Linked DNA regions of Homo sapiens. The protein of the gene in region 1 interacts with the protein of each later gene in a biochemical or structural test. Each region holds a gene or a part of one and is shown in the gene's direction. Other genes may lie near its edges. The genes, in order: MAP3K5, TNFAIP8L1, TPD52L2 and PPP5C.

What was found.
Region 2: the proteins of MAP3K5 (region 1) and TNFAIP8L1 form a complex in vitro, tested with the Homo sapiens proteins (one study listed by BioGRID).
Region 3: the proteins of MAP3K5 (region 1) and TPD52L2 form a complex in vitro, tested with the Homo sapiens proteins (one study listed by BioGRID).
Region 4: of the proteins of MAP3K5 (region 1) and PPP5C, one has a biochemical effect on the other in vitro, tested with the Homo sapiens proteins (one study listed by BioGRID).

What each region holds. Positions count from the first base shown.
Region 1 is NC_000006.12:136,694,021-136,699,906, reverse strand, and holds part of MAP3K5 (mitogen-activated protein kinase kinase kinase 5), read left to right. Parts: intron 1-1,224; coding exon 1,225-1,418; intron 1,419-2,519; coding exon 2,520-2,688; intron 2,689-3,849; coding exon 3,850-3,956; intron 3,957-5,596; coding exon 5,597-5,767; intron 5,768-5,886. UniProt on the Homo sapiens protein: Serine/threonine kinase which acts as an essential component of the MAP kinase signal transduction pathway. Plays an important role in the cascades of cellular responses evoked by changes in the environment.
Region 2 is NC_000019.10:4,640,949-4,646,834, forward strand, and holds part of TNFAIP8L1 (tumor necrosis factor alpha-induced protein 8-like protein 1), read left to right. Parts: intron 1-3; exon of another isoform or gene 4-52; intron 53-5,886. UniProt on the Homo sapiens protein: Acts as a negative regulator of mTOR activity.
Region 3 is NC_000020.11:63,866,988-63,872,873, forward strand, and holds part of TPD52L2 (tumor protein D54), read left to right. Parts: intron 1-2,308; coding exon 2,309-2,454; intron 2,455-5,886.
Region 4 is NC_000019.10:46,383,688-46,389,267, forward strand, and holds part of PPP5C (serine/threonine-protein phosphatase 5), read left to right. Parts: intron 1-92; coding exon 93-191; intron 192-1,116; coding exon 1,117-1,222; intron 1,223-3,405; coding exon 3,406-3,548; intron 3,549-3,678; coding exon 3,679-3,766; intron 3,767-4,720; coding exon 4,721-4,761; intron 4,762-4,865; coding exon 4,866-5,044; intron 5,045-5,580. UniProt on the Homo sapiens protein: Serine/threonine-protein phosphatase that dephosphorylates a myriad of proteins involved in different signaling pathways including the kinases CSNK1E, ASK1/MAP3K5, PRKDC and RAF1, the nuclear receptors NR3C1, PPARG, ESR1 and ESR2, SMAD proteins and TAU/MAPT.

The sequences.
Region 1 (5,886 bases):
GGCCAGGCTGATCTTGAACTCCTGGCTTCAAGCAATCTGCCCGCCTTGGCTTCCCAAAGTGCTGGGATTACAGGCGTGAGCCATCACACTCAGCTGATTGTGTTTTCTTTCCTGCTGTGGATCCTTCTATGATTCTGCATTGTCCAGAATGTACAGTCTAACATCCTTAACTTTGCATTTAATTCCCTTCCCTGAGCTTCGAGCTCCAGTCAGATTTGCTTACTCAGGGTATCCAACTCACTTTCCACTTTCATCCCTGCTCTGCTTTTGTTTGCACCAGTTTATCCTCGCTTGGGCATCATCCAGGAACCAAGAGAAGGTCAGTGAGCCCAGGCTGTAGTGGGCGAGGGGAGAGTGGCAGGGCTGAGGTTAGAGAGGGGCAGGATCTGCGTAGTCAGGCCCTTGTACGTTGCATTGCAATTTCTTCTTTCTCCCAAGAGCAAGAGATGGGGCTTTAAGCAGCTGTGGGAAGTGATCTGAGGGACAGTGTTGAAAGATCACTCTGATGGCAGAGTGGAGAGTAAATTAGAGGACAAGAGTGGAAGCAGGGGGACCAGTTAAAGCTGATGGCAGTGGCTCAGGCCAGGTCCATTGGTGCATGGACTAAAGTGTTGGCCGAGAAGATGGAGGGAAATGGACAAATATGACATTATATTTTGGAGGCAGGACAGATGGGACTTCGATAGGATGTGGAAGGGGAAGGGAATGGAAGCATCAAGGGTAACTTCTGGGCCTGTAGTTTTAGTAGTGGGGAGACAGAGAGAGAGCAGCCTCCCGGGGGGTGGATTTGAGCGGGATCTACTTGCGGCATCACCTTACATGTAGGAAGCCCTTCAAATGTGAGCTTGTAGCATTTTCATATGTGTATGCTGCGCCCTGTGACTAAATTATAAGTTCCCTGAAAGCTGAAGGCCATGCTTTAAACTACTTTTTCCAACAGCAATAACTTAGTGCCCTAGCCTTGAAAGATGGTGAATAAATATTAAATTGATGGATAGAAACTGTTCCACTCTTTTTTTGGTATCATCTGTAAGTCCTAATTATTTGAAGTATGCAGTGAAAGGAATTGGGGAAATTTTCATTGTCGTAGGTCATAAATAAATAATGAGGCTTTTCTATTTCCCTTTGCATTTGGAATTATTTAAAATGAGTAAGACGTGGGATTCCATCTGTGCCGTGTCTCCAGGCCAGCTCCCCACTTGCCGATGCCTCCTCTCTCCGCAGATGTGCACTGGGAACTACACCTTTGTTCCTTACATGATAACTCCACATAACAAAGTCTACTGCTGTGACAGCAGCTTCATGAAGGGGTTGACAGAGCTCATGCAACCGAACTTCGAGCTGCTTCTTGGACCCATCTGCTTACCTCTTGTGGATCGTTTTATTCAACTTTTGAAGGTGGCACAAGCAAGTTCTAGGTAAAGTTTAATTAATAATGCCATTTGGTGATGACAATAAAGTGTTATTCTACATCTTTATTTGTGCATGATATCAGGTGCTCCTGAGATATCAGTATACAGCTAAGAACTAGGGGGAAAATGTTTATTATCCTCCAAGTAGATAAAATAGATGCCACATAATACATTTTATTCACAGAACAGCAACTTGAAATCAGCAAAAAATTAAAAAGTCTACTAACCGCTTTATAGTGATGGTAGAACTAAAAATATATACAAAGCAAGTACAGAAACAATACCAGGATAAATGTCCAGGGACTTCTAGTGTAAGGGCAAGAACAATTCAACTTTAATTAACTCTTAACTCTAATTGTTCTTTCAGTGAAGAACAATTATTTATGTTAATAAATGATAGGCTGAGTCAGGAAGTTAAGGTTATATTATGTTCAAATCATAGGTACATCACGGCCAGTGCCGTGGCTCATGCCTGTAATCCCAGCATTTTGGGAGGCCGAGGTGGGCAGATCACTTGAGATCAGGAGTTCGAGACCAGCCTGGCCAACATGCCGAAACCCTGTCTCTACCAAAAATACAAAAATTAGCCAGGTGTGGTGGTGCACACCTGTAATCCCAGCTACTCACAAGGCTGAGGCAAGAGAATTGCTTGAACCCAGGAGATGGAGGTTGCAGTGAGCCAAGATCATGCCAGTATACTCTAGTCTGGGCAACAGAGTGAGACTCTGTCTCAAAAACAAAAACAACAAACAAACAAAAAATCATAGGTACATCTAATTTATTTAGAACAATTTGTACTGGAAACAGTAAAATGGAAAACAAAGTTTTGGCATTTTAAGTGGTTTTTTGCAGGAAAATTTATTAATATGGAGTACCTTTACCTTTAATTCTTTCTGAAGGCAGAGTAATAAAAGAAATACATTGGCTTCTAAATTTCTTAATAATGCCAGATATGTAAGATATTTATTTAGGCATCTGAATGAACTGAAAACTACAAATGCTTTATAGCTAATGCTGCAATATCATTCATGTCTTTATTAAAATTATTGCTTTTCATTGAAATTGTTTCTAATGTCAAACTCTTTGAAATGTGTGTGTTTTTACCAGCCAGTACTTCCGGGAATCTATACTCAATGACATCAGGAAAGCTCGTAATTTATACACTGGTAAAGAATTGGCAGCTGAGTTGGCAAGAATTCGGCAGCGAGTAGATAATATCGAAGTCTTGACAGCAGATATTGTCATAAATCTGTTACTTTCCTACAGAGATATCCAGGTGAGAAGATGTTTAAAGTGAAATCTTTGTTGTGTAGCATGTTGGAGGGATAAGGGAGTATTAACCTCAAATTTCAGTTTGCTGGTAAGCAGTTCATGTTACTACACGTAATTTTTTATTGACTCTCTTAAGCTTTCCATCCTATAATTTTATGATGAATGAAAAAGACTCATGTGAGTTAACCATCAGTGATTGTGAAAGACTTGTATGGTAAAGGCCTGACTTTTTCCTCCAAAAGAACAAAAAGAAAAATCTGCTGGCACAGCGAACCTGTGGACACAGTCTATTCTACTGTTAGCCTCAGGCACACCTGTCAGTGAAAGCTTTGTTTTGGCAAATAGCAGACATTTTTAGAGCTTTCTGGACATACCTTTTATCCCTTGAAATTGTATTGCTTGAAATTGATAGTGCTGAATCTAACTCGCCTGAAGGAAAAAATATGTAATTGATTACCTACAGAAATAACTTTAAAAATATGTAATGTAAAACACACTAACAGGTTATATCATTTTTATTGACATGTCTTAAAATTTTAAAAATAGGGTAAGTGGAATAAAATCCTCTCCAAGTTAGGGATTTGCTCTTAGGTTTTAATAGTAAAATTTAAATGACATCTGGTTTCTCCTTTCCATTCCTAGCCTTTCAGGTCTGTGTAAAGGCTTCATGTGCTCAAGACAGACTCACATCCATGGAGGGCTGTGGCACATAGGATCCTGTGGCTAGAGTGCTTACTCATGTGACATGAAACTGTGTTGCTACTTGTAACAGAAGTTCAACCCATTGCCTCATGTCCTTGACATTTTTATTTCCCTGAAATTGTTAGAACACTGCATACCGGGAATCTGGCTCTATGGGGAAATAAATCACCCATATTTAGACAGTAGAGCACTATCATGCTTGGTGTTTTTGTTTCTTTTGCTTTTTTAGTTTTTGTTCAACATGGTAACTGTATGTTTCTAATGTTTTTATATATACGATCTAAACCTTTTAGAAGAAAAACAACAAAAACTGTTTATTCTAGGTTCTTCAAAGTGTTCTGTGGATTCTAGTGTCTTTTTAATGTGTTTCTTGAATTCAGATATCTGGTTGTCAAAAGACACGTTATTGTGAGAATTTTCTCCTAATGGTTTAATTCTGTGCTATTCTCATCTAATTTGAAAGGACTATGATTCTATTGTGAAGCTGGTAGAGACTTTAGAAAAACTGCCAACCTTTGATTTGGCCTCCCATCACCATGTGAAGTTTCATTATGCATTTGCACTGAATAGGTAAGAAGAAAAAGTTCCCTTCCAGAATGCGTTAACATATTATTGTGTAACCTGCAATTCTTTACAGAGAATGTGTTCACTGCAGCATTGCAAGAAGTCCCTATTAAAATGTAATATTAGCATATCTGCTTCAGCCCCATGAAATATAGGAAGCATGCATTCTCATTTTTTTCTGATTTATTTTTCAGTAAAAAAAAAGTCGCACACTGTTGGTATATTTAAATTCTTACAGGTTTTCTGCTCTGTCAAAGTTTGTATTTGCTATTCATATTTTTTAGAATTGTAAAAGTTACATGAATATGATGTTATCTTTAAGCAAATACACTCAACACCAGATGGTCATTCACACAAAAGTTTTCACTAGAGTAAGGATGGTTATGTCTAGGTGAACATAGTGTTAGATAGTTATTACCAAGGATAAAAAGGAATTTCTTGGACAGAAGATTTGAAGTAGTAATTGAGAATAGAAATGATACCTTTTTTATAATAGCTTTATTGAAACATATTTCACAGGCTGGGCGTGGTGGCTCACTCCTGCAATCCTAGCACTTTGAGAGGCCAAGGTGGTCGGATTGCCTGAGCTCAGGAGTTCGAGAGCAGCCTGGGCAACACGGTGAAACCCCGTCTCTACTAAAATACAAAAAAATTAGCCAGGTGTGGCAGTGTGCACCTGTAGTTCCGGCTACTCGGGAGGCTGAGGCAGGAGAATCGCTTGAACCTGGGAGGCAGAAGTTGCAGTGAGCCAAGATCATGCCACTGCCCTCCAGCCTGGGCAACAGAGCAAGACTCTGTCTCCAAACAAACAAACTAAATATATTTCATCAAAACAATAAATTTTAAAACATTTTCATCACTCCACAAGGAAACCCTGTACCCATTAGCAGCCCCCCTTCCATTTCCCTCCCAAATCCCCCAACTCTAGGCAACCACGAATCTACTTTCAGTCTTTACAGATTTGCCTATTCTGGACATTTCATATAAATGGAATCATACAGTATGTGGTCCCTTGTGACTGACCTCTTTCACTTAGCATAATATTTTCAAGGTCTAAGGAATGATAACTCTTATAGAATTTTTATCTGGTTTTGTGAACTGTCTACACATACTATTTTAAAGCATGCTACATAAAGCAACTTCCTTAGATAATCAGTTAGTCACACGTAGAAATCAAGCAGTTCTTGGGTTTGATTTGATTTTTGGTATCATCTGTGAATGAGTTTGCTAAGTTTTGGAGCAAAAGCCATTGAAACCTAAGGTCAGGGTTTTGTCCCTACTTGGCTTTATTTACTCTACCCTATTCAAAGACACAGACTACAACTCTAATCTCGTTTCACCAACTTGAACCTGCATATAGGCTGCAGGGAAATTGGAAGGATTGTGGATGAGTAAGTACAAATCCATCACCATTATTAACACAGAAACTCAAAAGAAATCCTTGTTAGACCTAGTAGACATACAATGGGATAAAACAAAAAATTAGGCTTAGGACAGAGGTTTACAGAGGACTCTCAAAATCTAATTGTTTCTGTCCTGGCAAATTTCTCTAATATGAATCAACATGTTAAATAGGGTTTTTAAAAAAGAATTGATCTATATTGCTTCTGTAATGTATATTGAAACAACAATGTTTTCTGCCTTAGGAGAAATCTCCCTGGTGACAGAGCAAAAGCTCTTGATATTATGATTCCCATGGTGCAAAGCGAAGGACAAGTTGCTTCAGATATGTATTGCCTAGTTGGTCGAATCTACAAAGATATGTTTTTGGACTCTAATTTCACGGACACTGAAAGCAGAGACCATGGAGCTTCTTGGTAAGTAAATAGTATATAAATGAGCTACTTACTTAGTAAATCCATGGCATAAAAAAGTATTTGCAAATGAGAGTGTTAAAGTATTATTATAATCCATAAGATTGTGTATTATGAACTAA
Region 2 (5,886 bases), on another chromosome or scaffold:
GGTGAATCGGGCACTGGCCAGAGGCTGGAGCAGCCTGGGATACAGGTGGTGGGTGAGTGCCTGGACCCCTGCAGGGAATATGGGGCCGGGGGGGGGACTTGAACCCTGCTCCAATGGTGGGGTGGCTCTGCAGACGGGTGCAGGTCTGAGGCCCCGCGGTACGGCCCCTCCCACTGTGTGGCCTTGGACCGACGGTCAGGTGCCCCCAGAGCCTCAGTTTCCTCATCCCCGTTCCCCCAGGGGTCAGCCCAGGTGGGTGAGGGGTCTTTTGATTGCTTGACAATTCAGTATGGTGGGTTCCGGAGGCCTCAGTGTCCCTGTCTGTCCAATGGGGCCACGAAAGGGTGCCTTGAGGACAAAACTCCAGCCGTTGACAGGGGAACACTCCTCCCAGAGAGACGTCAACGCTAAAAAATGACTCACACTTGCCCAGGTACAGCTCAGGTGTTACAGACGGGGAGCAGGGCAAGGAGGCAGAGCGAGAGGCAGGAACGGCCCAGTTCCACAGCATGCCTGCCCCTTCCCAGCATCTCCCGACACCCCTCAGCAGATGACCTCCCTGGAATCACACCCGCTCGAGCTTTGACGCAGGGACCTCTGGCAGAGTTCTTGGGATCTTGTAAATCCCCAGCTTCTAGGCCTCAGTTTCCCCATCTGTCCAATGGGGCTGGTCATCTCCTTTTTCTTGTGGGGCTGAGATAACTGTGGGGAGGGAGGGTGCTTTGAGGGGTGGGGGAGATTCAACAAGATATTGTTAAAAGCCCGAGGAGGGGATTACAGGACACAGTACTTCTAGAAGCTTCCTAAGGCTTCGATCCTTCCCCTCTGGGGTGGGCTCTGGGAGAGACGAGACTTGAACCCCAAATGTGCCATTGACTAGGATGAGGAAAGGATTGCACTAGGTTAAAGGCTGGGTTCAAATTCTGATTCTGCCACATCACTGCTTTATAAACAGGCAAGCTCCTGACCCTCTGTGACTCAGTTTCCTTATAACCAAAAACTTGCAGGTCCATCTAGAGAATTTCCCAGCCTGGGCAACATGGTGAAACCCTGTCTCTACTTAAAACAAAGAAAAAAAAATTAGCCAGGTGTGGTGTCGCAGGCCTGTAGTCCCAGCCACTCTGGAGGCTGAGGTGGGAGGATCACCTGAGCCCAGGGAGGTTGAGGCTGCAGTGAGCCGAGCTCATGCCACTGCACTTCAGCCTGGGCGACAGGAGTGAAACCCTGTCTCAAAGAAAAAGAAGAGAATTGGCTGGGCGCCGTGGCTCACGCCTGTAATCCCAGCACTTTGGGAGGCTGAGGTGGCCGGATCACCTGAGGTCAGGAATTCGAGACCAGCCTGGCCAAGAGGGCAAAACCCTGTCTCTACTAAAAATACAAAAATGAGGCGGGCGTGGTGGTGGGTGCCTGTAATCCAGCTACTCAGGAGGCTGAGGCAGGAGAAACACTTAAACCCAAGAGGCAGAGGTTGCAGTGAGCCGAGATTGCACCACTGCTCTCCAGCCTGGGTTGACAGAGTGTGAGACTCCATCTCAAAAAAAAAAAAAAAATTAAAAATATACACATAAAATAAATAAAATAGATGGGGGATCTGGGAGGGCTTCCTGAGGAGGGGCCATGTAAACCCAGACCTGGATGACAAGAAGGAAACAGCCATGTGGAGACCTGGGAGAAGAGCAGCTCAGGCAGAGGGCACAGGTTGTGTAAAGGCCCTGGGGCAAGATGGCGCCTGGCATGGTAGAGGAGCAGCAAGGAGGCCCGTGGGGCTGGAGCAGTGAGGAGGAGGAGAGAGGGAGGAGGGGAGGGCAGGGAGGGGACAGGGCAGGGTGCGCAGGATCTTATGGGCTGCCAGGAATACTTGGCTTTGACCCCAAGGGAGGTGGGAGCCATGGAGGGTGGTGGGCAGGGGAAGGATGGAACCTGACTCAGGTACTCACAGGCACCCATTGGCTGCTACAGGGAGGACAGACGGGGGGCATGGGGATAGATGGTGCTGAGGGACGAGGGGACCAGGATGGAGGCTGTGGGGGAGATAAGAAGTGGGTTGCGTTAGGCCAGGCAGGGTGGCTCATGTAATCCCAGCACTTTGGGAGGCTGAGGCAAGTGGATCACCTGAGGTCAGGAGTTGGAGACCAGCCTGACCAACATGGTGAAACCCCATCTCTACTAAAAATACAAAAATTACCCAGGCATGGTGGCACGTGTCTGTAATACCAGCTACTCAGGAAGCTGAGGCAGGAGAATCACCTGAACCCAGGAGGCGGAGGTTGCAGTGAGCCGAGATCACGCCGCTGCACTCCAGCCTGGGCAACAGAGTGAGACTCTGTCTCAAAAAAAAAAAAAAAGTGGGTTGCATTGGGACACATTTAGGGGCTGGATGCACCTCCTGCCAGGTGATCCTAGGCTTCTCTGCACTCTAATAATTTATTGCTTGGGCTGAGGCAAGCCTGTCCCCTCCTCTGCAGAGTCATGGGCTGTGGGTAGCTGATAATTCATGTTTGGCCCTCGAACCCTTTCTCCAGTGGAAATCTGGCCACAGTGGAAAGTGTCCAGGCTCCCCGCCACAACCCAGCAGGCAGCTGGCCCCTGCCCATCCATGGGGTGGTCCTGAGGGTGCTGGGGAACCCAGTTTGAGAACAACTGATGTCACCCCCAACTTGGGCCAACAGATTCCCCTCTCTCTTTTGCCATAACTAAAATGGACACTGGCGAAGTATGGCGGCTCATGCCTGTAATCCTAGCATTCTGGGAGGCCGAAGCAGGAGGATCGCTTGAGCCCAGGAGGAGACCAGCCTGGCCAACATGGCAAAACCCCATCTCTACTAAAAATACAAAACTTAGCCAGGCATGGTGGCAGGTGCCTGTAATCCCAGCTATTTGGGAGGCTGAGGCAGGAGAATTGCTTGAACTGGAGAGGTGGAGGTTGCAGTGGGCTGAGATCGCGCAACAGAGCGAGACTCCATCTCAAAAAATAAATAAATAATAAAATTGGCCGTTCACGGTGGCTTATGCCTGTAATCCCAGCACTTTGGGTGGCCGAGGCGGGTGGATCACCTGAGGTCAGGAATTCGAGACCAGCCTGACCAACATGGAGAAAACCCCGTCTCTACTAAAAATACAAAATTAACCGGGCGTGGTGGCGCATGCCTGTAATCCCAGCTACTTGGGAGGCTGAGGCAGGAGAATCACTTGAACCCAGGAGGCAGAGGTTGCAGTGAGCTGAGATCATGCCATTGCACTCCAGCCTGGGCAACAAGAGTGAAACTCCGTCTCAAAAAAATAAAATAAAAATAAAATAAAATGGACACTGGCCAAGTGTGGCAGCTCACGCCTGCAATCCCAGCACTTTGGGAGGTCAAGGCGGGAGGATCACTTGAGCCCAGGAGTTCGAGACTAGCCTGGGCAACATAGCAAGACGCCATGTCTACCAAAAAAAAAAAAAAAAAATTAACCAGGCATGGTGGCACATACCTGTAGTCCCAGCTACTCAGGAGGCTGAGGTGGGAGGATCACTTGAGCCCAGGAGGTCGAGGCTATAGTGAGCTATAATGGTACCACTGCACTCCAGCCTGGGCAACAGAGTAAGACCTTGTCTTAAAAAAAAAATGAATAAATAAAAATAAAATGGACACCGGCTTGCAAGTCCTGAGTCATGGATTTTTTTTTTTTTTTTTTTTTTTTTGAGATAGAGTCTCACTCTGTTTCTCAGGCTGGAATGAAGTGGAGCTCACTGCAACCTCTGCCCCCCAGGTTCATGCGAGTCTCGTGACGCAGCCTCCCGAGTAGCTGGGATTACAGGCGTGTGCCACACACGGCTAATTTTTGTATTTTTAGTAGAGATGGGGTTTCACCATGTTGGCCAGGCTGGTCTTGGACTCCCGACCTAAGGTGATCTGCCCGCCTCGACCTCCCAAAGTGCTGGGATTACAGGCATGAGCCACCACGCCCAGCCTGTGAGTCATGGGTCTTAAAGGGCTTGGTGCAGTGGGACCCTGGGAGTCGGTGGGATGAGGCCTGGGATCACTGGCCTCGGCGGGAAGAGGCCTGAGGCCCCCCCTGGGCCCCCGGACTGAGTGCAGCCGGGGCTGAGACAAGACAGATGGAGCGGCTGGCGTGCACCTGCAGAGCAGATCCATCAATTATTGACACTCTGTGAGGTGCATGAAGAATTCATGGGACAGGGGTGGGGACGGCAGGGACTTGTGACATAATTGCAGCCAGCTCACCAGAGCCACCTCCTGTGTTTTCAGGAATTTTGCCATCTGGTAGTTAAACGCAGCCATTATTTAACGTGGGAGAATATAAACTTATAGTTAAGGCTGGGCGTGGTGGCTCCCACCTGTAATCCCAGCAGTTTGGGAGGCCGAGGCGAGTAGATCACTTGAGGCCGGGAGTTAGAGACCAGCCTGGCCGACATGGCCAAACCCCGTCTCTACTAAAAATACACAAATTTGTATTTTTGTACAAATACAAATACACCAGCTGGGTGTGGTGGCATGCACCTGTAGTCCTAGCTACTTGGGAGGCTGAGGCTGAGGCAGGAGAATCGCTTGAATCCGGGAGGCAGAGGTTGCAGTGAGCTGAGATTTGGCCACTGCACTCCAGCCTGGGAGACAGAGCAAGACTCCATCTCAAAATACATACAAACATACATACATACATAAACTTATAGTTAAATAAAGTACATTTAAGCCAGGGGTGGTAGCTCACACCTGTAGTCCCAGCACTTTGGGAGGCTGAGGCAGGAGGATCCGTCTCAAAAAAAAAAAAAAAAAGGAATATAGGGAGCAGGGGAAGAGTCAAGGGAGCCAGGGAGTTGGTGCCTGGTCACCCATTTTGCAGATGGGAAAGCTGCCCCCATGCATGGGGCCTGCCAAGGGTCACAGCAGGGAGACCTCAGAGCTGTGGACGGACCTGGACAGAGGCTGTGGACAGGGCTGAGGCCTCCTGGCTGTTCCTGTAACAAGCGTGACACAGCCCTGCCCCAGGGCCTTTGCACAGGCTGTGCCCTTTGCCTGGAGCATCTTCCCGCAGACCCTGTCATTGCAGGCCCAGTTCAACTGGCCCAGCCTCTCCCTAGAGAGGCCCTCCTGGTTACCCTGAACTTCATCCCCCACCCCCGTGGCCCATATCTCTCTTCCTGAAATTAACTTGTTTGTTTCTATTTATTGGTTACCGGCACCTCCTCCTTCCAGCAGGGGAACAGTTTTTGCACCCAGGCTGGAGTGCAGTGGAACAATCTCGACTCCCTGCAACCTCCGCCTCCCAGGTTCAAGCGGTTCTCCTGCCTCAGTCTCCCGAGTAGCTGGAATTACAGGTGCTCGCCACCACGCCCGGCCGACTTTTTTTTTTTTTTTCAGTTGAGTCCGGGTCTCACTATGTTGGCCAGGCTAGTCTTGAACTCCTGGCCTCAATTGATCCTCCTCCCTCTGCCTCCCAAACTGCTGGGATTACAGTTATGAGCCACCGCACCTGGCCAATCATTGTTTTAAAGTGTACAATTTATAACCAGAAAGTTATGTGACCATCATAAATTTCTGGAATCTCTAATTCCAGAACATTCCATTACCACTCACCCCAAAAAAACCTGGTTCCCAATTTAGCAATCGCTTTCCATTTTCCCCTCTTCCAGTTTCCAGCACCCGCGAGTCCGCTTTCTGCCCTTGTGGACAGGCCTCTCCTGAACATTTTTTTTTTTTTGAGATGGAGTCTCGCTCTGTCACCCAGGCTGGAGTACAGTGACGTGATCTTGGCTCACTGCAAGCTCCGCCTCCCGGGTTCACGCCATTCTCCTGCCTCAGCCTCCCGAGTAGCCAGGATTACAGGTGCCCGCCACCGCGCCCCGCTAATTTTTTGTATTTTTAGTAGAGACGGGGTTTCACCGTG
Region 3 (5,886 bases), on another chromosome or scaffold:
TTGTTGCCCACGCTGCAGTACAATGGCGCGATCATGGCTTCCCGCAACCTCTGCCTTCTGGGTTCAAGCGATTCTCCTGCCTCAGCCTCCCGTGTAGCTGGCATTACAGGCGTGCGCCACCATGCCCGGCTAATTTTGTATTTTTAGTAGAGATGGAGGTTTCTCCATGTTGGTCAAGCTGGTCTCGAACTTCTGACCTCAGGTGATCTGCCCGCCTTGGCCTCCAAAAGTGCTGGGATTACAGGTGTGAGCCATTGTGCCCAGCCTCATTTGTCTTTTTTTAAATAGAACAGAAAGGCTGGGCTCGGTGGCTTACGCCTGTAATTCTAACACATTGGGAGGCCGAGGCCAGTGGATCACTTGAGGTCAGGAGTTTGAGACCAGCCTAACCAACGTGCCAAAACCCCGTCTCTACTAAAAATAAAAAAATTAACCGGGCATGGTGGTGTGCTCCTGTAGTCCCAGCTACTTGGGAGGCTGAGGCAGGAGAATCGATTGAACCCAGGAGGTGGAGGTTGCAGTGAGCGGAGATCGTGCCACTGCACTCCAGCCTGGGTGACAGAGTAAGACTCGTCTAAAAAAAAAAAAAAGAGAATCAGTGGATAAAAAAGTGGATACGCTTCGTTTAGTAAGCGTTTGTGGAGCGCCAAGGAAGTGCACACGGCTCCAGTCCTATGGGACATTTGAAGGGAGTGAGATGCAGCCAGCTTTTAAGAAGAGTATCTTTGTTAAGTGCATTTAATCTGGTGTCTTTGTGTTGTCTTTTAAAAGGCATAGTTTTTTTTTCTTTTTCTTTTCTTTTGTTTTTTTTTTTTGAGACAGTCTCAAAAAAAAGAGACGGGGTTTCACCATATTGGCCAGGCTGGTCTTGAACTCCTGACCTCAGGTGATCCGCCCGCCTCAGCCTCCCAAAGTGCTGGGATTACCGGCATGAGCCACCCCGCCCGACCAGTTTTTCTTTTTTTTTTTAAAGAATTTTTTTTTGGCCGCGCGTGGTGGCTCAACGCCTGTAATCTCCCGGGTTCAAGTGATTCTCCTGCCTCAGCCTCCCAAGTAGCTGGGAACTACAGGCGCGTGCCACCACGCTAACTAATTTTGTATTTTTAGTAGAGACGGGGTTTCACCATTTTGGTCAAGCTGGTCTCGAACTCCTGACCTCATGTGATCCACCTGCCTCGGCCTCCAAAAGTGCTGGGATTATAGGCATGAGCCACTGCGCCTGGCAGTAAGCCTGTTTCTTTTCAGAATGTTTTGGTCAACAGGGAAAGTGTTACAATAGTCATGTGCTTGGATTTGGAGAGAATCGAAATAGACTGTTTTTCTTTATGTGAAATCTTGTAGACTTTTAGGGTAGTCAGGAAGATGCATTTGACATGAAGAAAAAACAGTGGCTGCAGGAATTTGAATGTGATCTGGGTGTAGTTGAGGTGTGTGGTGGCAGCACACCGCTCTGCACCTCTCTGCCTGCTGGCGGCCTTCTGGCAGTGGGATGAGAATCGGGAGGTAAGTAAAGGGAATTTTGTTTTGCTGCCTCCCTGAAGGAGCTGAATGAGCAGCATGTGCTCCTAGTACGTAATTTTAGCATGTGCTCTGTCAGATGTGTTGAGAGGAAAGTGATGCTTATTGTGTATATTAACCATATTAGGTTCCTTTTTTTAAAAAAAGTGGAAATTTGTCAGGGTATGGTGGCTCACACCTGTAATCCCAACACTTTGGGAGGCCAAGGCGGGCGGATCACCCGAGGTCGGGAATTGGAGACCAGCCTGGCCGACATGACGAAACCCCGTCTCTACTGAAAATACAAAAATAGCCAGCGTGGTGGCGTGCGCCTGTAATCCCAGCTACTCGAAGGCTGAGACAGGAGAATCACTTGAACCCGGGAGACGGAGGTTGCAGTGAGCTGAGATCGCACCATTGCACTCCAGCTTGGGAGGCAGAGTGAGACTCCATCAAAAAAAAAAGGTGGAAGGTCTGTTAGATTGAGCTGCTTTCTCTGTAGCAAGGGTTTCCTGCCTCTGACGATAGTATTCTCACTGGGAAGCCAGAATTCGGGTTTGCCTGCCTTGGGCCGGCATTTGTCGTGCCCTGAAGCAGCACAAGTGGCATTGGCTTTTCAGCTCAGGTGGTCTGAGGTGTGGCTGCCCTCGTCTACTGCCCATGCTGTCCTCACAGACCTTTCAGAGAAGAGGTGTTAGTCTCCAGGGTCTCACCCACTCCCACCTGTGCTTTTGTCCTGCTAGAGACCTCTACCGTATTTACTTGGAACTAACTTATTTGACACTTTGTGGCCTCATTTTGTCTCTGGCAGATATCAACCTGAATTCTCCTAACAAAGGTCTGCTGTCTGACTCCATGACGGATGTTCCTGTCGACACAGGTGTGGCTGCCCGGACTCCTGCTGTTGAGGGTCTGACAGAGGCTGAGGAGGAGGAGCTCAGGGCTGAGCTTACCAAGGTGCTGTGGCTTGGCTGTCTGTCCTGGGGTGAATTGGAGTTAAGGCCCTCTTGGATTAGTGAGAGGCCAGGGTACTGGCCACGCTCGGGAGGAATTGCCCTGGGTGGTCACCTACCCTGCTCTGTGTTCCGACTGATAACGGGGTTCTCTTTGTATGTGCCCAGCTCCATGCACTGGACTCAGAGCCACCTGGCAGTGGAGACAGGGCATGACTCCCTTCCCATACCTCTGTGCCTGGCCCTTCCTAAGTGCTCCCTGAGGAGTGTTCACACATGAACCGCCTCTGAGCAGCCATCTGCTGGGAGTGTCTCTGTTGGAATTAACACTTGATAATCATTTTTAAGACCCCATGAATCTTTCTTGTCCTGGATCTTAAGTTTTCTTTTAAACATATTTATTTTGGCTGGATGCAGTGGCTCATGCCTGTAATTCCAGCGCCTTAGGAGGACAGGGTGGTAAGGTGGGAAGATCACTTGAGCCCAGGAGTTTGAGAGCAGCCTGGGCAACACAGTGAGACCTTGTCTCTACCCCCAAAAATTAGCCAGGTGTGGTGGCATGTGCCTGTAGTCCCAGCTACTCAGGAGGCTGAGGTGAGAGGATTGCTTGAGGCCAGGAGGTCAAGGCTTCAGTGAGCTGTGATTGCATCCTGCACAGCAGCCTGGGTGACAGGGCGAGACCCTGTCTCAAAAACAAAACAAAAACTTCTTTTCTAAAAAGTATTTATGTGATCTTCTTTAAGTGAGAGTCCCTTAAGAGTAATGTAGGAATTAAGAACAAAAGCCTCCAACCATAATTTTTAGTCAAACCAACTGCCAAGAGTTTTCTTTTCACCCTGTGATGTGGTTTAATTCCAGAATCTGGGTCCAGGCCTAGGTCTGAGTAAGGTTGGTTGTGCCGCTGAGTCTGAGGACCAGGTTTCAGATCCTGAGGACATCACACAGCTATTTCTAGCCTAGAAGATTAAAGGAGAGTAGCAGGAAGTCCAAGGACACTTTGCTTTCCATTTAACTTCAGAATATGTGAGTTTAGAAACTAAATCCACAAGGTTTTTTTCAGAGTTGAATTACAATAAGGTGAAGTTTTTTTTTTTTTTTTTTTTTTTTTGAGTCGGAGTCTCTGCCGCCCAGGCTGGAGTGCAGTGGCGCAATCTCGGCTCACTGCAACCTCCAACACCCGGGTTCACGCCATTCTCCTGCCTCAGCCTCCTGAGTAGCTGGGACTACAGGCGCCCACCACCACGCCCGGCTAATTTTTTTGTGTTTTTAGTCGAGATGGGGTTTGTTTTTTTTTTTTGGAGACAGAGTCTCGCCCTGTCGCCCAGGCTGGAGTGCAATGGTGTGATCTCGGCTCGCTGCAATCTCCGCCTCCCAGGTTCAAGCGATTCTCCTGCCTCAGCCTCCCGAATATCTGGGATTACAGGCGCGTGCCTCCCTGCCCATCTAATTTTCGTATTTTTAGTAGAGACAGAGTTTCACCATGTTGGCCAGGCTGATCTCAAACTCCTGATCTTGTGATCCACCCACCTTGGCCTCCCAGAGTGCTGGGATTACAGGTGTGAGCCACTGTGCCCGGCCCCTACAAGGTGAAGTTCTGTATTGCTTTTTTTTGTTGTTTTTCTTGAGACAGAGTCTTGCTCTGTCGCCCAGGCTAGAGTGCAGTGGCGTGATCTCAGCTCACTGGAGCCTCTGCCTCCCTGGTTCAAGTGATTTTCATGCCTCAGCCTCCCAAGTAGGTGGGATTACAGACGCCTGCCACCACACCTGGCTAATTTTTGTATTTTTAGTAGAGACAGAGTTTCACCATGTTGGCCAGGCTGGTCCCGAACTCCGAGTCTCAAGAGCTCCACCTGGCTCAGCCTCCCGAAGTGCTAGGATTACAAATGCGAGCCGCTGTACCCAGCCAAGAAAGAGAATTTTTTTTTTTTTAAGGACGGAGTCTCACTCTGTCGCCCAGGCTGGAGTGCAGTGGCGTGATCTGGGCTCACTGCAGCCTCCACCTCCTGAGTTGAAGTGATTCTCTTGCCTCAGCCTCCCGAGTAGCTGGGATTACAGGCGCACAGCACCATGCCTGGCTAATTTTTGTATTTTTAGTAGAGACGGAGTTTCACCACGTTGGCCAGGTTGGTCTCGAACTCCAGACCTCAGGTAATCTGCCTGCCTCAGCCTCCCATAGTGCTGGGATTACACGCAAGAAAGAGTTTTTTTTTTTTTTTGAGACTTTTTGCTCTTGTTGCCCAGGCTGGAGTGGAATGGTGCGATCTTGGCTCACTGCAGCCTCTGCCTCCCAGGTTCAAGTGATTCTCCTGTCTCAGCCTCCCGAGTACCTGGGGTTACAGGTGCATGCCACCACGCCTGGCTAATTTTTGTATTTTTGGTAGAGACGGCCTTTCATCATATTGGTCAGGCTGGTCTCGGACTCCTGACCTCAGGTGATCTGCCCGCCTCGGCCTCCCAAAGTGCTGGGATTACAGGCATGAGCTATCGTACCCGGCCAAGAAAGAGAATTTTTAAAGAGAAGCTAGTCATATATGAGCTGAAGATACTGAGAACTCATTCTAAAGTGGTAAAGCTTTGAATGATGCCCCTTTCAGAGGTCATGTTCTTTTTTTTTTTTTTTTTTTTTAAAGACCTGAGAAAGTTCAAGTCTTCATGATCAGGAATCTTTCTGTTGCTCAGTTCTAACTACGTTAAGCACAAAAGATAATTTACCTTTTGGTTCGTGTAACTGACTCTTGCCAAGGTTTGGAACTGACCTCAGGAACACAAGTGTTTTCTTAAGGGTGTTTTTTTCTGTCACCTGTGTCACTGTCCATCTGCCTCCTCCTCTCTGCATATGGAATTCTATGAGTGCAGACGGTGCCCGGCTGCCAACAGTTCCAGCTTCTATTGTCCAAGCCCAGACTGAGAGCCCTGAGGGAAAAGGATCCTCACTGTTTTTTGTTTGTTTGTTTGTTTTTGAAACAGTCTCGGTCTGTCACCTAGGCTGGAGTGCAGTGGCATGATCTCGGCTCACTGCAACCTCTGTCTCCTGGGTTCAAACAGTTTTCCTGCCTCAGCCTCCCGAGTAGCTGGGGTTACAGGCGTGCACCACCATACCTGGCTAATTTTTGTATTTTTAGTAGAGACGGGGTTTTGTCATGTTGGCCAGGCTGGTCTCAAACTCCTGACCTCAGATAATCTGCCTGCCTTGGCCTCACAAAGTGCTGGGATTACAGGCGTGAGCCACTGTGCCCGGCCAGGGTCTTCACCATTTTTTTGTTGTTGTTGTTTTGTTTTGTTTGAGATGGAGTCTCGCTCTGTCACCCAGGCTGGAGTGCAGTGGCACAATCTTGGCTCACCCGCAAGCTCTGCCTCCTGGATTCACACCATTCTCCTGCCTCAGCCTCCCGAGTAGCTGGGACTACAGGTGCCCGCCACCGTGCCTGGCTAATTT
Region 4 (5,580 bases), on another chromosome or scaffold:
CTACTGTGAACTCTTACCCTTCCCCTCACCTCTGCCCCCTCCCCACGTCTCTCTCTCGGCCCGTCCCTCTCCGGTGGCCTCTTTTCTTTCAGACAGAGAAGATTACAGTATGTGGGGACACCCATGGCCAGTTCTATGACCTCCTCAACATATTCGAGCTCAACGGTTTACCCTCGGAGACCAACCCCTATGTATCCTTCTCAGCAGAGCCACCCTCTCCCCACCTCCACCCCCAGCCGCAGCCTCAGGTCTGCACAGAGTGGGAGGAGCCCTTGCCAGGAAAAGACGTGACCTTGGAAAGGAGAGGCCTGGCCATGCTGGGGCACCAAGGTGTGGGTGGAGCTGCAGGCTGGCCATGCACCCCAGGCTCCAGGCTCGGACAGGCCTGGGCCAGCACCCACCTGCTGTGTGACCTAAGCTGGTAGCTCAGTCTCTCTGGGTCTTGGCTTGTCTTCGTCTGCCTCAGGATCACATTTGAATGGCACCTGGCACTGGCCACACTTGGGTTCCATCCTGGCTTTGCCACTTCCCAGCTGTGTGACCGAAGCAGGTTACTTCACTGCTTGGTGTCACAGTTTCCCCATTTGCAAAGAGGGATAATAATATGTGCAACCTTGTTACTCAGCAGTTACTGAGAGGACAGGTTAAGAACAGGGCCTGGCCCACACCTGATGCTATCTAAGTATTTCCCCGTGTTATGGTATCTGCTCGATGAACGGCCACTTGTAGGGCCACTAGGCCTATGCATTGTTGAGTGGGAGGGCCCGTGTCCCATCTCCCCCATGGCTCCAGGCCTCTCTGAGGAGAGCTGAAGGAGGTGGACTGACTAGTCCCCGCACCTCCCCGCCACTGGCTTTCCGGGAGACAGGAGGCAGGGTCCTCAGTGCCATACTACTGAGGCTCAGCGGCCAAGCTCTGGCTGGAGCCACGGTGAGGAAAGGATTAGAAACCCAGATCCCTTGAGCCCTGCCAAGTCCTCACTCCCTGGGAGGTGCTGACAGGAGGCTTGAGGCCAGGCAGGAGCAGCCCATCTGGCCCATCTTCTGCCACCACCCCCAACCCCACCGCACCGCACCCTTCCCCTCCACGCTTGCCATGTTTTCCTCAGCAGGACAGATATTTAATGGTGACTTTGTGGACCGAGGCTCCTTCTCTGTAGAAGTGATCCTCACCCTTTTCGGCTTCAAGCTCCTGTACCCAGATCACTTTCACCTCCTTCGAGGTGAGCTGGGAAGTGACAAGGTTTGGGTTCATTGTGGGGTCCTGAGTGGGGCACTCACTCTGCAAGGATAATAGTTGCAGCTGTATTTATTTTGTGGACTCGGAGATCATGCACAGGGCGACCTTTTAAGATTGAGTATGTAGTGCACTGCACAAAAGCATCACACCAAAGGACGCGTTTACATCATAGATAGTGTAGAAATGGATGTTTACTCTGACCATTTTTCAGCAGATGGCAAACAAGGGTGTGAGGATGGGCCCCTTATTCTAATTTGCACAAGGGCATGAAACAGGCTCCTGGGTGGCCCTAAATCTGGCACTAAAGCTGAGTGACTGAGTGAACAGACCAGGGCTCGAGGGTGGGAGTAAGGAGACTGTTGACGAGGCAGTTGTGCCCCCTCAGATTCAGGCTTGGTGTCAGATTTGGGTTCTCTTGATTGAAGTAGAGCCCGGAGCTGAGTGTGCTGGTTCACACCTGTAATCCCAGCACTTTGGAAGGCCCAGGTAGGAGGATCACTTCAGCCCAGGAGTTTGAGACCAGCCTGGGCAACACAGTGAGACTTTGTCTCCAGTAAACATTTTTTAAAAAGGCCAGGCGCAGTGGCTCATGCCTGTAATCCCAGCATTTTGGGAGGCCAAGGCAGGTGGATCATCTGAGGTCAAGAGTTCGAAACCAGCCTGTCCAATGTGGTGAAACCCCGTCTCTACTAAAAATACAAAAATTAGCCGGGCATGGTGGTACACGCCTGTAATCCCAGCTGCCTGGGAGGCTGAGGCAGGAGAATCGCTTGAACCCAGGAGGCACATGTTGCAATGAGCCGAGATTGCGCCACTGCACTCCAGCCTAGTCGATAGAGTGAGACTCAGTCTAAAAAAAAAAAAAAAAGCCAGGCATGGTGGCACCGTGCACCCGTAGTCCCAGCTTCTTGGGTGGCCAAAGTGGAAGGATTGCTTGAGCCCAGGAGTGTAAGGCTGCAGTGAGCCATGATCACACCGCTGCACTCCAGCGTGGGCAACAGAGCAAGACCCTGTCTCTTTGAAAAAAAAAAAAAAAGTAAGAAACTTGGAAGTAGAGCCCAGAGTATTTGCTGGAGGAACAGACACAGGTGTGAGACAAAGAGGGAACGAAAGGGGCCCTCTAGGGTTTTGGCCGGAGTATCTGGAGGGCTATGGCTGCCAGTGACGAAGACGGGAACATGTAGAGCAGGGTGTGGCCAGGAGCTGAGGAGCTCCCCTTTGGATGTGGCTGAGACTCAGGAGACATGGGATGTGGGTGGGGTTCCAAGGGGTGTTGAAAATGTAGGTTTCTTGGTGTCCAGATGAGATTAGACAAGAGGAGCTCACTGGGATGTGAGGGCCACACAGGGGAGGCCCTGCCCATGGCGGGGCCGGGGTGAGTTGGGAGGTGAGTGATAGGCTGGGGCGAAGCCTGCATGCCCGTGTCCCTGGGCTCACAGGGTTCACGCAGCAGTGTCCAGCACAGGGTCAAAGCTCAGGAAGCCCGACTGTGGGCCTCGTTGCAGGAGGCAACAAGTGCTCAGGCCGAGAAGTCAGACAAGCAGAGTCTGAGCAGATGCGAGACTGGGCAGCCTTCTCCTTGCCCCCAAGCTCTGGAAGGGAAGAAGGAGGCCGGGTGCTTGTGTCTGAGACAGAAGGATGGAGCTCAGGGTGGGGTGGGCTGGGGCACATGTTCTGTAGATGGGCCTACTTTTTGGTTTTGAGACGGTCTTGCTTTGCTCTGTTGCCCAGGCTGGAGTGCAGTAGCATGAGCATAGCTCACTGCAGCCTCTGCTTCGTGGGCTCAAGTGATCCTCTGGCCTCAGCCTCCCAAGTAGCTGGCACTATAGGCACGCACCACCATGCCCAGCTAATTTTTAAAATTGTTTTATAGAGAGGTCTCAGTATATTGCCCAGGCTGGTCTCAAATTGCTGGGCTCAAGCAGTTCTGCCTTGGCTTCCCAAAGTGCTGGAATTATAGGCGTGAGCCATGGTGCTTAGCCATGGACCTACTTTTTGTCAAGATTCCCCCCTTGGTACCTCCAGTCTGGAAGGCACCGCAGTGGCAAGTGCGAGGCCCATGGGGGCAAGGGACGCATGCACAGTTCTGGGCCTTGAGGGTGCCAGGCTGGAGGACACTGATGTACCTGGAGGCTGAGCTTTCTCTTCTGTCCCCGTGTTGGCCAGGCAACCACGAGACAGACAACATGAACCAGATCTACGGTTTCGAGGGTGAGGTGAAGGCCAAGTACACAGCCCAGATGTACGAGCTCTTTAGCGAGGTGTTCGAGTGGCTCCCGTTGGCCCAGTGCATCAACGGCAAAGTGCTGGTGAGGACGGCGCGAGCCCTGAGTGTGGGTTCCCCACCCAGCCACACCTGGGCAGATGTGCTGGTGAAGGAAGTTGGGGCCTGTGGGTGGGTGGCACCTTCCCTCACAGCGGCATCCCCCATCTCCCCAGATCATGCACGGAGGCCTGTTCAGTGAAGACGGTGTCACCCTGGATGACATCCGGAAAATTGAGCGGAATCGACAACCCCCAGATTCAGGTGAGCAGCGCGGGGCCAGGTGTCTCCAGCAGAAAGGGGCAGCCTGGGCTGAGCTCTCCCCTGCAACCCAGCCCTGCCTCGGAGGATGGGCTTTGTGCCCTTGGCAAGAAACAGCGGGTCTGAGCCTCAGTTTCCTCACCTGCGACTTGGGCCAGTGCACCTCCTTCATGGGGCTGTGATGGCAAGCACGGTCGTGACCATGGTGCGGGGTGAAGGCACGGTGACCGCCGAGCACACCTGTCCTTATTTATTTGTGAGTTCAGCTGTGGAACCCTGGAAGGAGGGGAGGTCTTGGGGCTCCTGTGCTAGTGACGGGCACACTTCAGAGAGTTCACCCACAGGTGCACACGCACGTGCACACTGTGAGTGCTGCAGAGGACATGGATTGGGTGGGCTGGTGCTGGGTGCTCAGGAAGGCCTCTCCAGGGAGGCGAGGTTTGAGCTGACACTGCGGGAAGCAGAGGCATCTGCCGTGCACAGAGCCTGGCGAGCATATTCCAGGCTTGAGGAGGGGTCCTAAGGCAGGGAGAAGTTGGCGAGTGGGCAGGGCTGTGCTTTGAGGGCTGACATTGGACATGGGGTTCACTGGGCCCAAATCCTATGGCGCTTTACAGGCCCCAGTGAGGAACTTTGTTCCTAGGGCAGTGCGGAGCCACCAAAGGCTTTGAGTGGGAGAGGGGCCTGATCTGAATAGTGACATTGAAAGCTCTATCTGGCTTCGGGGCCACAGGGGATTGAATGGGGTCTGGAGGGCAGATCAGCAGAGAGGGTGGGGGTGGCTCAGAATCACAGTCACCTGTCCTGAATGTCCATGTCCATGCTGGATGTCCCCTGCCCAACACCCACCCAGGCTGGGCTGTGGGGTCAGCACCTGGCCGGGCCAGGAGGTGGCCTGTGAGTGACCACCCCCGGGGAGGTGGACGAGTCCCTAATGTTTCCCTCGCTCCCCACCAGGGCCCATGTGTGACCTGCTCTGGTCAGATCCACAGCCACAGGTGAGTCTAGGGTGGGGTGCAGGGCCGGCGGGTGTGGGCTGTGGCAGCAGGTGGAGGCAGACAGTCACCCTGAACCCCTGTCTCTCCCTTCTGCCCACCCTCAGAACGGGCGCTCGATCAGCAAGCGGGGCGTGAGCTGTCAGTTTGGGCCTGACGTCACCAAGGCCTTCTTGGAAGAGAACAACCTGGACTATATCATCCGCAGCCACGAAGTCAAGGCCGAGGGCTACGAGGTGGCTCACGGAGGCCGCTGTGTCACCGTCTTCTCTGCCCCCAACTACTGGTATGTCTTTGCCTTTCCAGCCCAGGGCCTCTACCAAGCCACGGGTTTTTGTCTTGGTTTTTGTTTTGCCTTTTTATGATGGAACATTTCAAAGACAGGCAAGAGCAGATAAAAGAACATGACGAACACCCCCGTATGTGTCACCCACCCATGCAGCACCAGTGGGGCCAGCCTGTGAGTGCTGACCAGCTGCCCTGTGTTACAGCAAGCCCCTGGCACTTCACCTTTCTCCCACTGATTGCCCAGCACTTTTCAGAAGGAAAGGGATCTTTTTCTTAACCACAATATCGTGTTTACACTTTTGAGTGCTGGCTGGGCATGGTGGCTCACGCCTATAATCCCAGCACTTTGGGAGGCCGAGGTGGGCGGATCACCTGAGGTCAGGAGTTTGAGACCAGCCTGGCCAACATGGTGAAACCCCATCTCTACTAAAAATACAAAAATTAGCAGGGCGTGGTGGCACACACCCGTAATCCCAGCTACTCAGGAGGCTGAGTCAGGAGAATTGTTCGAACCCGGGAGGTAGAGGTTGCAGT